Homo sapiens: one gene and its partners. The protein of the gene in region 1 purifies or fractionates together with the protein of each later gene. This does not show direct contact. Each region holds a gene or a part of one and is shown in the gene's direction. Other genes may lie near its edges. The genes, in order: AMFR, FAF2 and INSIG1.

What was found.
Region 2: the proteins of AMFR (region 1) and FAF2 purify together in Homo sapiens (affinity purification with western blotting; 9 studies listed by BioGRID and IntAct, with this or other methods). This does not show direct contact.
Region 3: the proteins of AMFR (region 1) and INSIG1 purify together in Homo sapiens (affinity purification with western blotting; 6 studies listed by BioGRID and IntAct, with this or other methods). This does not show direct contact.

Annotation. Positions count from the first base shown.
Region 1 is NC_000016.10:56,411,946-56,415,545, reverse strand, and holds part of AMFR (E3 ubiquitin-protein ligase AMFR), read left to right. Parts: intron 1-1,201; coding exon 1,202-1,294; intron 1,295-3,600. UniProt on the Homo sapiens protein: E3 ubiquitin-protein ligase that mediates the polyubiquitination of lysine and cysteine residues on target proteins, such as CD3D, CYP3A4, CFTR, INSIG1, SOAT2/ACAT2 and APOB for proteasomal degradation.
Region 2 is NC_000005.10:176,486,369-176,490,191, forward strand, and holds part of FAF2 (FAS-associated factor 2), read left to right. Parts: coding exon 1-121; intron 122-2,582; coding exon 2,583-2,659; intron 2,660-3,823. UniProt on the Homo sapiens protein: Plays an important role in endoplasmic reticulum-associated degradation (ERAD) that mediates ubiquitin-dependent degradation of misfolded endoplasmic reticulum proteins.
Region 3 is NC_000007.14:155,295,780-155,299,602, forward strand, and holds the start of INSIG1 (insulin-induced gene 1 protein), read left to right. Parts: upstream 1-2,098; 5' UTR 2,099-2,180; exon of another isoform or gene 2,181-2,248; intron 2,249-2,371; exon of another isoform or gene 2,372-2,479; 5' UTR 2,480-2,506; coding exon 2,507-2,918; exon of another isoform or gene 2,919-3,201; intron 3,202-3,823. UniProt on the Homo sapiens protein: Oxysterol-binding protein that mediates feedback control of cholesterol synthesis by controlling both endoplasmic reticulum to Golgi transport of SCAP and degradation of HMGCR.

The DNA of each region.
Region 1 (3,600 bases):
GGCTGCCCTTAAGTGTTCTCCCAAAGGAGGGATGGCATGAGGTACTAAACAGACCCTGAGGTGATCTCAGGGATCTTGCTTTCTTAAATTACTCTCCTCTATCCCCTTTCTTTCTTCTTTAAAATTATCATTTGCTTTTAAAAGTAGAGGGAAGAATGACTTGGCAAGGGTAATATGGTAAACGTAGTGAATCAGAGGCAGAAGCAGCTTTACATTGAATTGGAGTTCCTTTTCATTTGCTCTCAACAAGTCATCTGTACTGTTTTTATCAAGGTCCTTTTGGCTTTTTGGAGTCATTCAGAGTAATGTGATACCCCACACTAATCTCTGGGTTGGGGACAGCCAACTCTTCCATTTTGTAAGCATTAAGATTTGGCGTTTAGGTGTAAGGATATTCATCATTTAGAGTTTTGTTTTGTTTTGTTTTGTTTTTCAAGTTTTCTCATAGACTGTTGAAGAAGGCCTTGGTTTTGCATTGGTATCCCCAGGTTGCCTTTCATCTCTTGGCCCCTCTCGCCGGTTTTCTTTTCCTTCTGTTTAACCCATTCCACCCTGCTGCAGTGCCACAAAACCTTTACTTCAAAGCCAACACCAAGCATGGAGAACATTTATCTTTTGGTTGAAAGATTTTTCCATTCCAATAAATATTAAAATATTCTCTCTGTATATATATATTTATATTATTAGTTCCTTATGATGAGACTTTTTTGTGACCATCCACACTCCTACCCCTACCTCCTATTTGTTTGGCAGGGCAGAATCTCTGGGTGCTGGGTTTTACTATTCACGGTAACTTCAATTTCTAGAACAGTTTTCTTCAAGGCTGTCAAAATAATGTCGGAAATGAGGTACTTGGGAAGGACCTGCAGTTTACGAGGTTAATGTAGTTTTGCACATACAGTACAAAGTATACACACAATTCAGTTAAGGATGAAAGATAAGGTGGCCTGCTGGAGGGTGCGTATTGGGACAAGAACTGTGACTTAGCTGGTGAGCTGGTGCCTCTCTTTCCGGTCCTCATCCCTAACACCCACTCCCCAGAACAGTGTGCCTTTTCAGATATTCCTTATCTTGCATTGGGAGAGAACCAGAAAGGCTCAGTCACTGGAAATGATGGCTGAATTCCTAATATGAGATTTTTAGAGCTGCTTTTATTTTTCAGCAGGAAGAAATAAACTTCCTTTCTCTGATTTGTTTACAGGTTCTAGTAAATACCGCTTGCTGTGTTTTGATGTTGGTGGCTAAGCTCATCCAGTGTATTGTGTTTGGCCCTCTTCGAGTGAGTGAGAGACAGGTAAGTCTACACTGAAAGGATGGATTCTTGTGACTAGATTTTTTTTTTTAAACTTTGTATTATGATTTCAGATGTGTGGAAAAGTTCCATGAATACTACAGAAAACTCCTATATACCCTTTATCCAGATTCGCCAGTTGTTAATATTTTGTTCCATTTGCTTTAATCTTCACTTTTTATTTATACATACTTTTTTTTCTGATTCATTTGAGAGTAAGTTGTGGACATCATTACCCCTTTACCCCTAAATACTTCAGTTTGTATTTTCTAAGAGCAAAGGCATTTTTACAGCACAGTGATTAAAATTAGGAAATTTAACATTGAAAAAATACTTTGTCTAATCCACAGTCCATATTCAGTGTAGCCAAGTTGTCCCAATATTGTTTTTTATAGCTGTTTTTCTTCATGACTTTTAGGAATGTCGTTTTTAAAGAAGCCTAGATTTGTTTTATTTTGAATGATCATAAATGTCACTCTGTAGAATGTGGGTTCTTTTCCAAAAGAATTTACCAAGATAATTTTCTCTGTGGGAAGGTGAATTAAGAATCATTGTTCTAAAAGCATAAAATTAGGAGATTTGTTCTTGTTTTGGGTGAGATTGTCTGACATTGGAAAGTGACTCAGAATGGGCAGGGGATGCTTTCAATGAAGAATTACGCCACAAGCATACTGTATAGATTGGCAGTTCGCTGAGGATTTGAGTGGGTAGGGTGTAGAATAATTTTTTTTTTTTTTTTTGAGTCGGAGTCTTGCTCTGTCACCCAGGCTGCAGTGCAGTGGCGCAATCTCAGCTCACTGCAACCTCTGCCTCCCGGGTTCAAGCACTTGTCCTGCTTCAACCTCCCAAGTAGCTGGGAATACAGGTGTGCACCACAGCTAATTTATATATTTTTAGTAGAGACAGGATTTCGCCACGTTGGCCGGGCTGGTCTCAAACTCCTGACCTCAGGTGATCCGCCTGCCTTGGCCTCCCAAAGTGCTGGGATTACAGGCGTGAGCCACTGTGCCTGGCATGGTATGTTTTAAAGTAAAAATTTAGAACTGGCCTTCAAAATCACAACATAAGAACAAAATTGTGTTTTATTCTATCTTATCCCAGTGATAAAACACAGGAACCTACTATATGAAAAGCACAACAGCAGCTTTACTTTATGTTCAGAGTGTTCCATTCTCTCCTTACCTACCCTTTTCAACCCAAATTTCCTTTTATAAAATCAGCTGAAGTCCTAGTTTAGAGCTGACATGTATTACTTGGTGGTTGAGCCCTTGGATGCCATTGTGAACAGGACTATTTTGTATTCTCAGAGATTTTTCATTTTCAGCACTTTCTCCAGTATCGACTCTAGAGGTCTCCCAGATAGGTTGTAAATGCTGCCTTTTTTTTTTTTTCTTTTGAGACAGCGTCTTGCTCTGTCACCCAGGCTGGAGTGCAGTGGTGCGATCTCCACTCACTGCAGTCTCAACCTCCTGGGCTCAAGCAGTCTCCTCCCATCTCAGCCTCCTGAGTACCTGAGACTACAGGCATGTGTCACACCTGGCTAATTGTTTAGGTGTTTGTAGAGACGGAATTTCACCATGCTGCCCAGGTTGGTCTCAAACTGTTGAGTTCAAGCAGTCCGCCCGCCTCAGCCTCCCAAAGTGCTGGAATTATAGGTGTGAGCCACTTCTACTGGCTTAAATGCTTCTTTTGATACTTCTTCAAGTTTCTCTTCAAATTTTTTATTTGTGGACCAGAAATTGGTCAGGCCAGGCAGGCTTGGTGGATTGATCTGGCACCAGTGGGCTTTATATACTTTCTTTTCCCTAAAAGGTTACTTCTATCAGGTTGAAATTTATAGAAAGTATAACCTTGGAGTATTTTAGAGATTTTTTAACTAGATCCAGAGGTAATTATAATGAGCATATTTCTTATCCAGCTCCACTTTAATTTTTTTCAGCATCGATCGCATCTTCCCTGCTGTTCTGTGTTGGTTTATTTATGTTTAATGTCATCCAGTAGCATCAATTAGGAACCATTTTGAGTTAGAAATCTCTAGGATTGACATGGGTTTGCTCTTGGGTGCTTAAAGTTCTAGAAATAGAGTAATGCTAGAGGCAAAGACATCGAATATCTAAAATGATTAAAATGTTAAGTGGAGGTTTAGAGCAAGGAAGCTTTTTGATGCGTTTTTAAGTGCTTAGTGCCTAGTATGGCACTTGTCTAACCATTTCACATATATTATGTATAATTCCCCCAACAATTCTATGAGGTATATGCTGTTATTATAAGACCTATTGTATGGATGAGGAAACTAAAGCACAGGGATG
Region 2 (3,823 bases), on another chromosome or scaffold:
CAGATTGAATGAGCAAGAGGGCGTACCTAGTGTTTTCAACCCACCTCCATCACGACCCCTGCAGGTTAATACAGCTGACCACAGGATCTACAGCTATGTTGTCTCAAGACCTCAACCAAGGGCAAGTTATTTCATAGCTGGGATTTCCCCCTTTTTTATTTATAAGTATATCCACTTGGTTATATTGATCTCCCTGTGACAGGAGCAAAACAAATATTTAGAATGTAAACCTGTTAGTTAGACTTGGCCCGTTGGGTGTATTATTTTGCCTTGATTCCTCAAGGAATTGTTACAGAAACTACTCATTTTTTTTTTCTTTTCTTTGCCAGTTATTTGGAGAGTGTTTTCTGCCTCTTAAGTTACAATTTGTTTACTCAAGTTCTTTGTTGCTTCAGTTTACTTAATCTTAAACCAGTTTTGAGGAAGTATATGGAATCTTTGTAGGAGCTTTGGCCACGTCTTTGAAATTAGCCTTGAAGGGCTAGTAGCAAGGAGGTGGTTCACTTAAATTTGACAGACATTTAAGAGTACTCCAATAACCTGGTATCTTGCTACTAGGGATCCAGACATGAATAAAGAGCCAGTCTTCCCATTTCAAATTCAATTTCTCACAGTCTATTGAAGGAAGTCAGATGTGTACACTGATAATGAATTCTAAAGAACTGCTTGGACTTTCTTTTTCTTACCCCTGGGGTTATACTCACCTCTTATACTTTTATACTTGCATTTAGAATCCTAAGAAAACACTCCCTTTAACATTGCAGCAGTTAGAATTTACTCCATCATCAAGCCTTTTTGTGGAGTACTTGATTTTTGTTGTGTTTTGTTCTGTTTGAGACAGGGTCTCACTCTGTCGCCCAGCCTGGAGTGCAGTGGCATGATCTTGGCTCGCTGCAGCCTAGACCTCCCGGGCTCAAGCAGTCCTCCACCTCAGCCTCCTAAGTAGCTGGGACTACAGGTGTGCGCCACCATCCTGGTTAATTTTTGTATTTTTTGTAGAGATGGGGTCTTGCTATGTTGCCCAGGCTGGTCTTGAACTCCTGAGCTCAAGTTATCTGCCCACCTCAGCCTCCCAAAGTGCTGGAATTACAGGCTTGAGGCACTGTGCCTGGCCTACTTGATGTTTTAAAACATGTTTCTAAGTAGTGCTCTGTGGTTTTCTGAAGTACAGTAGCAGATTCCCATGTCAGCCATGGGGCTCCAGAGCTTCCTGGCCACAGACACAGAAAGTGTCTCAGGTTAACACAATGTGACAACTATGAAATGCTTTATAAACTATAGAGCCCTGGATGTATGCTAGTTTTAATAATTAATAACAGCAATAATAATTAGCATTATTACTAAGATAAGCAGCTATATGGGGATTTGTCATTGTGGTTAATATAATTATTTAATGTTTATATACCAATGTCCAAGGTTAGTAATAGTGATTATCTTTCTTGCTATTTCTATATACATTATTTTAGGTTTTTATGTTTGTTTGTTTTGTTTTGGGACAGAATCTCCCTCTGTTGCCCAGGCTGGAGTGCAGTGGTGTGATCTCAGCTCACTGCAACCTCAGCTTCCCAGGTTCAAGCGATTCTCCTGCCTCAGCCTCCTGAGTAGCTGGGATTACAGGCGCCCACCACCGCGTCTGGCTAATTTTTGTATTTTTAGTAGAGACAGGGTTTCACCATGTTGGCCAGGCTGGTCTCAAACTCCTGACCTCAAGTGATCTGCCTGCCTTGGCTTCCCAAATTGCTGGGAGTACAAGTGTGAGCCACCACACCCAGCTAATTTTTGTATTTTTAGTAGAGACAGGGTTTTACCATGTTGACCAGGCTGGTCTCGAACTCCTGACCCCAGGTGATCCATCCGCCTCAGCCTCCCAAAGTGTTGGGATTACAGGCGTGAGCCACCAAGCCTGGCTTATTTCTGTATACCATATTTTGATGTGTAAATCTAAAAAGGAAAGAATGAGTGTGTATCATTTGGGGAACATTAATTTGCAATTGAATTTGACAAGTCTATAAGTAGCTGCCAAAAATAAGTATTAAGGCAGTTTTGGTTTTTATTTGTTTGTTTGTTTTTTTGAGACAGAATCTTGCTCTGCCCCCAGGCTGGAGTTCAGTGGCGCGATCTCAGCTCACTGCAACCTCCGCCTCCTGGGTTTAAGCAATTTTCCTGCCTCAGCCTCCCTGAGTAGCTGGGACTACAGGTGCATGCCACCATGCCTGGCTAATTTTTGTATTTTTAGTAGAGATGGGATTTCACCGTGTTGGCCAGGCTGGTCTCAAACTCCTGACCTCAGGTGATCTGCCCCACTCAGCCTCCCAAAGTGCTGGGATTACAGGCAGGAGATACAGCTCTGGACCTTAAAGCAGATTTAATACAAAAATTCTGCAAAAAAAAATGATAGTAAGATGAAATAAGACCAAAGATGGTGGCACTTAGAAGGATGAGGTGGCCAGGAAGAAGGAACTGTACTTTAGAGGAACAAATCACATGGAAGGACCAAAAAGAGTGAGAAAATCTGACCTAGCCATTTGATAAAATATTAGGGATTGAGAGAATTGTCTCTAACTTTGTTTTTGGACTTTCAGGGGCTGCTTGGATGGGGTTATTACTTGATAATGCTTCCATTCCGGTTTACCTATTACACGATACTTGATATATTTAGGTATGTACCTTTGGATTTATGTATTAGTAGAATAGTAAGACTTTGGAGCTGAAATTTAGGCCAAAATAAGCTTTATGCTCTATCAATGTTGACTTACCAATTTGTCATGAGATGGAATACACTTCCCGAACTGTCTTTTAATACAACATACAAGTATTTTAAATTGTTGAAGCATTGGCAGGCATTGTGAAATGGAATTGTTTTTAAATTAGTCTTACCTTTTGTTTGCAAAAACCAGTCTGACTATATTTATTTGTCTCCCCCTCCCCCCCCCACCATATTTGTCACCTCTACACTTCCTAGTTGATGTCCACACCCTTTCCTTTCTAACCACTATCATCTCCTAGCTTCACACTCCTTAGAACTTTCTTCCTCAACTACTTCTCCTCCACCTGACTACTCACAATCCCAACAAATTCTCTTGCTCTGAGATTACCCAGTTTGCCCTTGATTCCTCCCACAATAGTTGGACCTCCCTAGACACTCCTGTTACACCTTTTCTTTCTTTTTCTTTCTTTTTTTGAAACAGAGTCTTGCTCTGTCGCTGTCACCCAGGCTAGAGTGCAGTGCCACCATCTCGACTCACTGCAACCTTCACCTCCTGGGTTCAAGCGATTCTCATACCTCAGCCTCCCAGATAGCTGGGATTACAAGCATGCGCCACCACGCCTGGCTAATTTTTGTATTTTTAGTAGAGACAGTAGAGATGGAGTCTCATTTTGTTGGCCAGGCTGATCTTGAGCTCCCGGCCTCAAGTGATCCACCTGCCTTGGCCTCCCGAAGTGCTGGGATTGCTGGCATGAGCCACCATGCCTGGCAGCTTCGGTACCTTTTCACTTTGCTCTGGCAGCCCCTAGGTTGCAAACACTGGAACCCTTTTATGTATATACCCACTTGCTTCATACCTTCACCTTTCTTCTAGCTTCCTTCATGTACCATTAAAAGAGCTCATCATTGGAAGCTACAGAGGGTCCAAGGCCAGAAAATGAGTGGGGCTCAACTGGCCGGGCTCTGTGGCTCACGCCTGTAATCCCAGCACTTTGGGAGGCTGAGGTGGGCGGATCACAACGTCAGGAGATCAAGACCATCCTGGCTAATACGGTGAAACCCTGTCTCTACTAAAAATACAAAAAATTAGCCGGGCGCGGTGGCTGGTGCCTGTAG
Region 3 (3,823 bases), on another chromosome or scaffold:
CACATTCCCACGGGACATCTTGGTCGGTGTAAGTGCAACAGCCACAGAGCCACAGGGTGCCTCTATGACTCCAGGATCTTCCATGGTTCATAATGTCCCAGTACAGATGAGAGGAGGGACAGAGTCAGAGAGGCTGGGTTGTATGAACACTGGTTTATTAGGTAGATAGGAAAAGAAGAATGAAGTCAATAGTCTTTAGCAAGCCAACTAGCTCAAGGAATAGACAGCCCCTTTCCATTCTGGAGACAACACATAAATCTATTAATATTAAATATTGTCATGAGGTATGCACCTGCCCACAGGGGTATTATGATGGAAATACTGGGGTAGTCTGCAGGGCCAGGTACAAATGACGGGAAACAAAGCCAGAGAAACTGAAATACCTCTTGGACCCCAGAAGACAGATGTACTGATTTCTGGGATGTCAGGAGCCCAGTGCAGAGCAGCTGGATAGGTCGCTAAGAGCTTTCCCTTCTGCTTATCGGGTCTCACACACCTGGATAAACCAGTTATTGAAAGCTGACCTGCTAATGAGAAGCTTCTGGCACTTGCTGGTGTTTCCTAATTGAATGGGTGACTGCCCCGCATCTCAGGGCCGGGGCTCCCGTGCGGACGCCTCTCCATGAGGTTAGCAGCTTGATTTAGATCAGCGTGCGGGACGGGGAGCTCACAGTGGGGTCGAGGAGACACAGCACAGGCTTCTGAAAGGTGCCCTGTCCATTAGGGAGCACCCCATTTACAGATGGGTCATCCTTCAGCTCACTAGTTTCCCAGCGCATGACAGTGGGTAGCTTTTTTTTTTCCTATTATAAACAAATCTTCGATGTGACTGCGATGATCTACGGATGATCTACGTATCTGGTTGTGTGATCCTCAAGCACTTATGCAAGGTGGAGTGTAAACAATGGCCAAGACCCAAACTGCAATGTTCCCTGAAGTCCAACCTGCTTGGAGTCCTTGGGAACGTGTACAATGGTTAACAGGCTTGAGAGGAGTCAGCTGGGAGAGTGAGAGCGAGACTGCCCTGCAGAGGGGCCGCTGAGGATGGACCCCTGTAGGCCGTCCACACCCACCACGCGTGTCATCCTCAGGAAATGCAACCGGATGCTCGGAATTTCGCCCCTAAAGCGACTCAGGGCAGTCTCAGCTCAGGAAGACTTCTTTTTTTGACCTTCTGGCTTAAAGCCACAACCCCAGGCTGAGGATGCCACATCAACGGCGTTTCCTCGCCACGCTGCAGGCGTGACTCACGTTTCTAAGCCTGCAGGGTCCCCGGGCCAAGCGCGGCTACTGAGAGCACAGCGTCCTCCCTCAGCCCCTGCTCATCTGCACGGAGCAAAGCCGCAGCTTTCTCTGCTGTCAGCGCTTTATACGACTCGGATGTAGGCTCTGAGCGGGCACGGGCCCGCCCTCAGACGGCGACCCGAGGGGCAAACAGGATGGAGGCGCGCTCCCTTGGAGGCTGTGGTCTCGATTTTATCTGCTCCTGGGTGGTGCGGGTGGTTTGCTCTCTAGGCGTGAGCAAAGGCCACAAGGGGCCCGAAAAAATCACCCAAGGATGCAAGCCCGCCATTGCGCTGAGCAGGGGCCTCCCCGCCGCCAGAGCCCGCGCCCCTCCAGGGAGGCCCGCGCGATCGAGACCCGCCGCCTCCCGGCCAGGCGCGGGACACCAGGCGAGGGGAGCCAGGAGCCGGGAGGGGCGGCGCCGGGCCCGCAACCCCACCCTGTCCTGCCTCCGCCTCCTCCCGGCAGGACCGTCCCCTCCCAGGCCCCAGCTCCGCGGCCGCCCACTCGCAGCCGGCCAGTCCCGCTCGGGCCCGCGTGCCCCGCAGCCGCCACGCGCCCCGCAGTCCGTGCCGAGGCTCCCGCCCGAGTGCGCGCGGGCCGGCGGTGGCGTGTGCGCACGTCATATGGGCCGCCGGCCTCCCATTGGTTGCGGCCGCCTCACCAGACCGCGTGCGGACGGGCTCGCGGGCGGGGCGGGGCAAGCTCAGGCCACGCCCCTGGGCGGTGCGCGCGGGCGGTGGGTAGGCCGGGCAGGCTCACGTGATGCGGGCCCCGCGGCCCGCCATATAAACCCGCGCGCCCGCCAGGCGCTGCGGCCGTCCCGGGCCGTGACTCCTCCTTTCCCCCGCCCCGCCTCCGTTCGGAGAGCCGGCGGGCGGGCGCCTCTCGGCCAGGTACGCGGCCGGCTGGGATAGGGGTCGCGGGCGGGCTTTGGTCGCGCAGCAGCCGGTCCTCCCCGGAGGTAGGCGGGCGCGGGCCCTGTTGGGTCTTTGGGACGCGGGTCCCGCTGGGGCCGGGGATGCTGCTCGCTGTGAGCGCGGGTCCCGTCCGCCGCTGGCCCCGGGCGGGCGCACGGGGGTCTAACCTTGGGGGGCGGCGCTGCCGCCTGGCCCGGGTGCCGGGGTTCGCGTCCCGCGGGGCCTTCCTCGCTCTTTGTCTCTTCTGAGTGAACTTGATGACCCCCTTCTTCCAGGAAGCGCCTCTTGGACGCGTGTGACCGATGCCCAGATTGCACGACCACTTCTGGAGCTGCTCCTGTGCGCACAGCGCGAGGCGCCGAGGCCCCCCGCGAGCCAGCGCCGCGGGGCTGGCGGCCAAGGTTGGGGAGATGATCAACGTTTCCGTGTCCGGGCCCTCCCTGCTGGCGGCCCACGGTGCCCCGGACGCTGACCCCGCGCCCAGGGGCCGCAGTGCTGCGATGAGCGGCCCCGAGCCCGGCAGCCCCTACCCCAACACCTGGCATCATCGCCTGTTGCAGAGGAGCCTCGTGCTCTTCTCGGTTGGGGTGGTCCTAGCCCTGGTGCTCAACCTGCTGCAGATCCAGAGGAATGTCACTCTCTTCCCCGAGGAGGTGATCGCCACCATCTTTTCCTCCGCCTGGTGGGTCCCTCCCTGCTGCGGGACAGCAGCTGGTGAGTACCCCTCCTGGTTCTTCTGGAAGTAAAAAGGGTGTCTTTTCGGTTGAAAGTACTTTTCAGCCTATAAGAAACATGCATTTGAAACTGGAACTATCCACAGATTGAAAGTGTGCATCTCCAGTCTTGGGATTTAGAGAAATGAAGGAGGGGTAGAGAGGACCTGGCACCCCCGAGGGCGGGTTCGGGCCACAGCTCTCTGAAGTTTGAGGAAGCACAGTGATGGAGATGAGGCAGGGAGATAATTGGCTGTTCAAGCAGGTGCTGTGCCAAGCTGACTGAGGGCCCTTCCCTCCTGGCGTCCGGGTACAGCCCCAGCTGTCATCCCGCGCCAGCCGCCCCGGATTGGCCGCCTGGGGAACTGGTGAGCAGCGGGACTGAAAGGCCATTGGTCGCGGCAGCAAACATGCTACCCTGCTGGATAACTGAAAACAAACCCGTCACATGGGTTCAGGAGGCGGTTGCCAGGGGAGCAACTTCTCAGCACTTCCTTTTGCCGGGTCGCTGAGTAAACTGTGGTCTGAAGCCAAACCGCCTACACCCTGAACTGTTAGAGCTCTGTAGATTACGTTCTTAAGGAAAAGAGTAACCCCCTTACGGCGTTTAGATTTTCGTACACCCAAGCAGTAGCATAGATGCTGTACAACGTAACACTGAGTCAGTCTGAACTGTGGACACGGGGACTGCTGGGTGTGTGTACTAGACTTTCTTGGCTATCATTGAACCGCTTTTATAGAAATGTTGAGTTGATCTTGGCTCAGCAGATCACTTACTGCTCCTGTAGTCACACAGCATTTGTTTATTTAACGAGCTTGTCGGGTGCTTTCTGCAACCTCAACTCTATAAGCTGTTGAAATGTTAATCCAAAAGTGAGCACCACAAGCCCCTATCCTTAAGCAGCT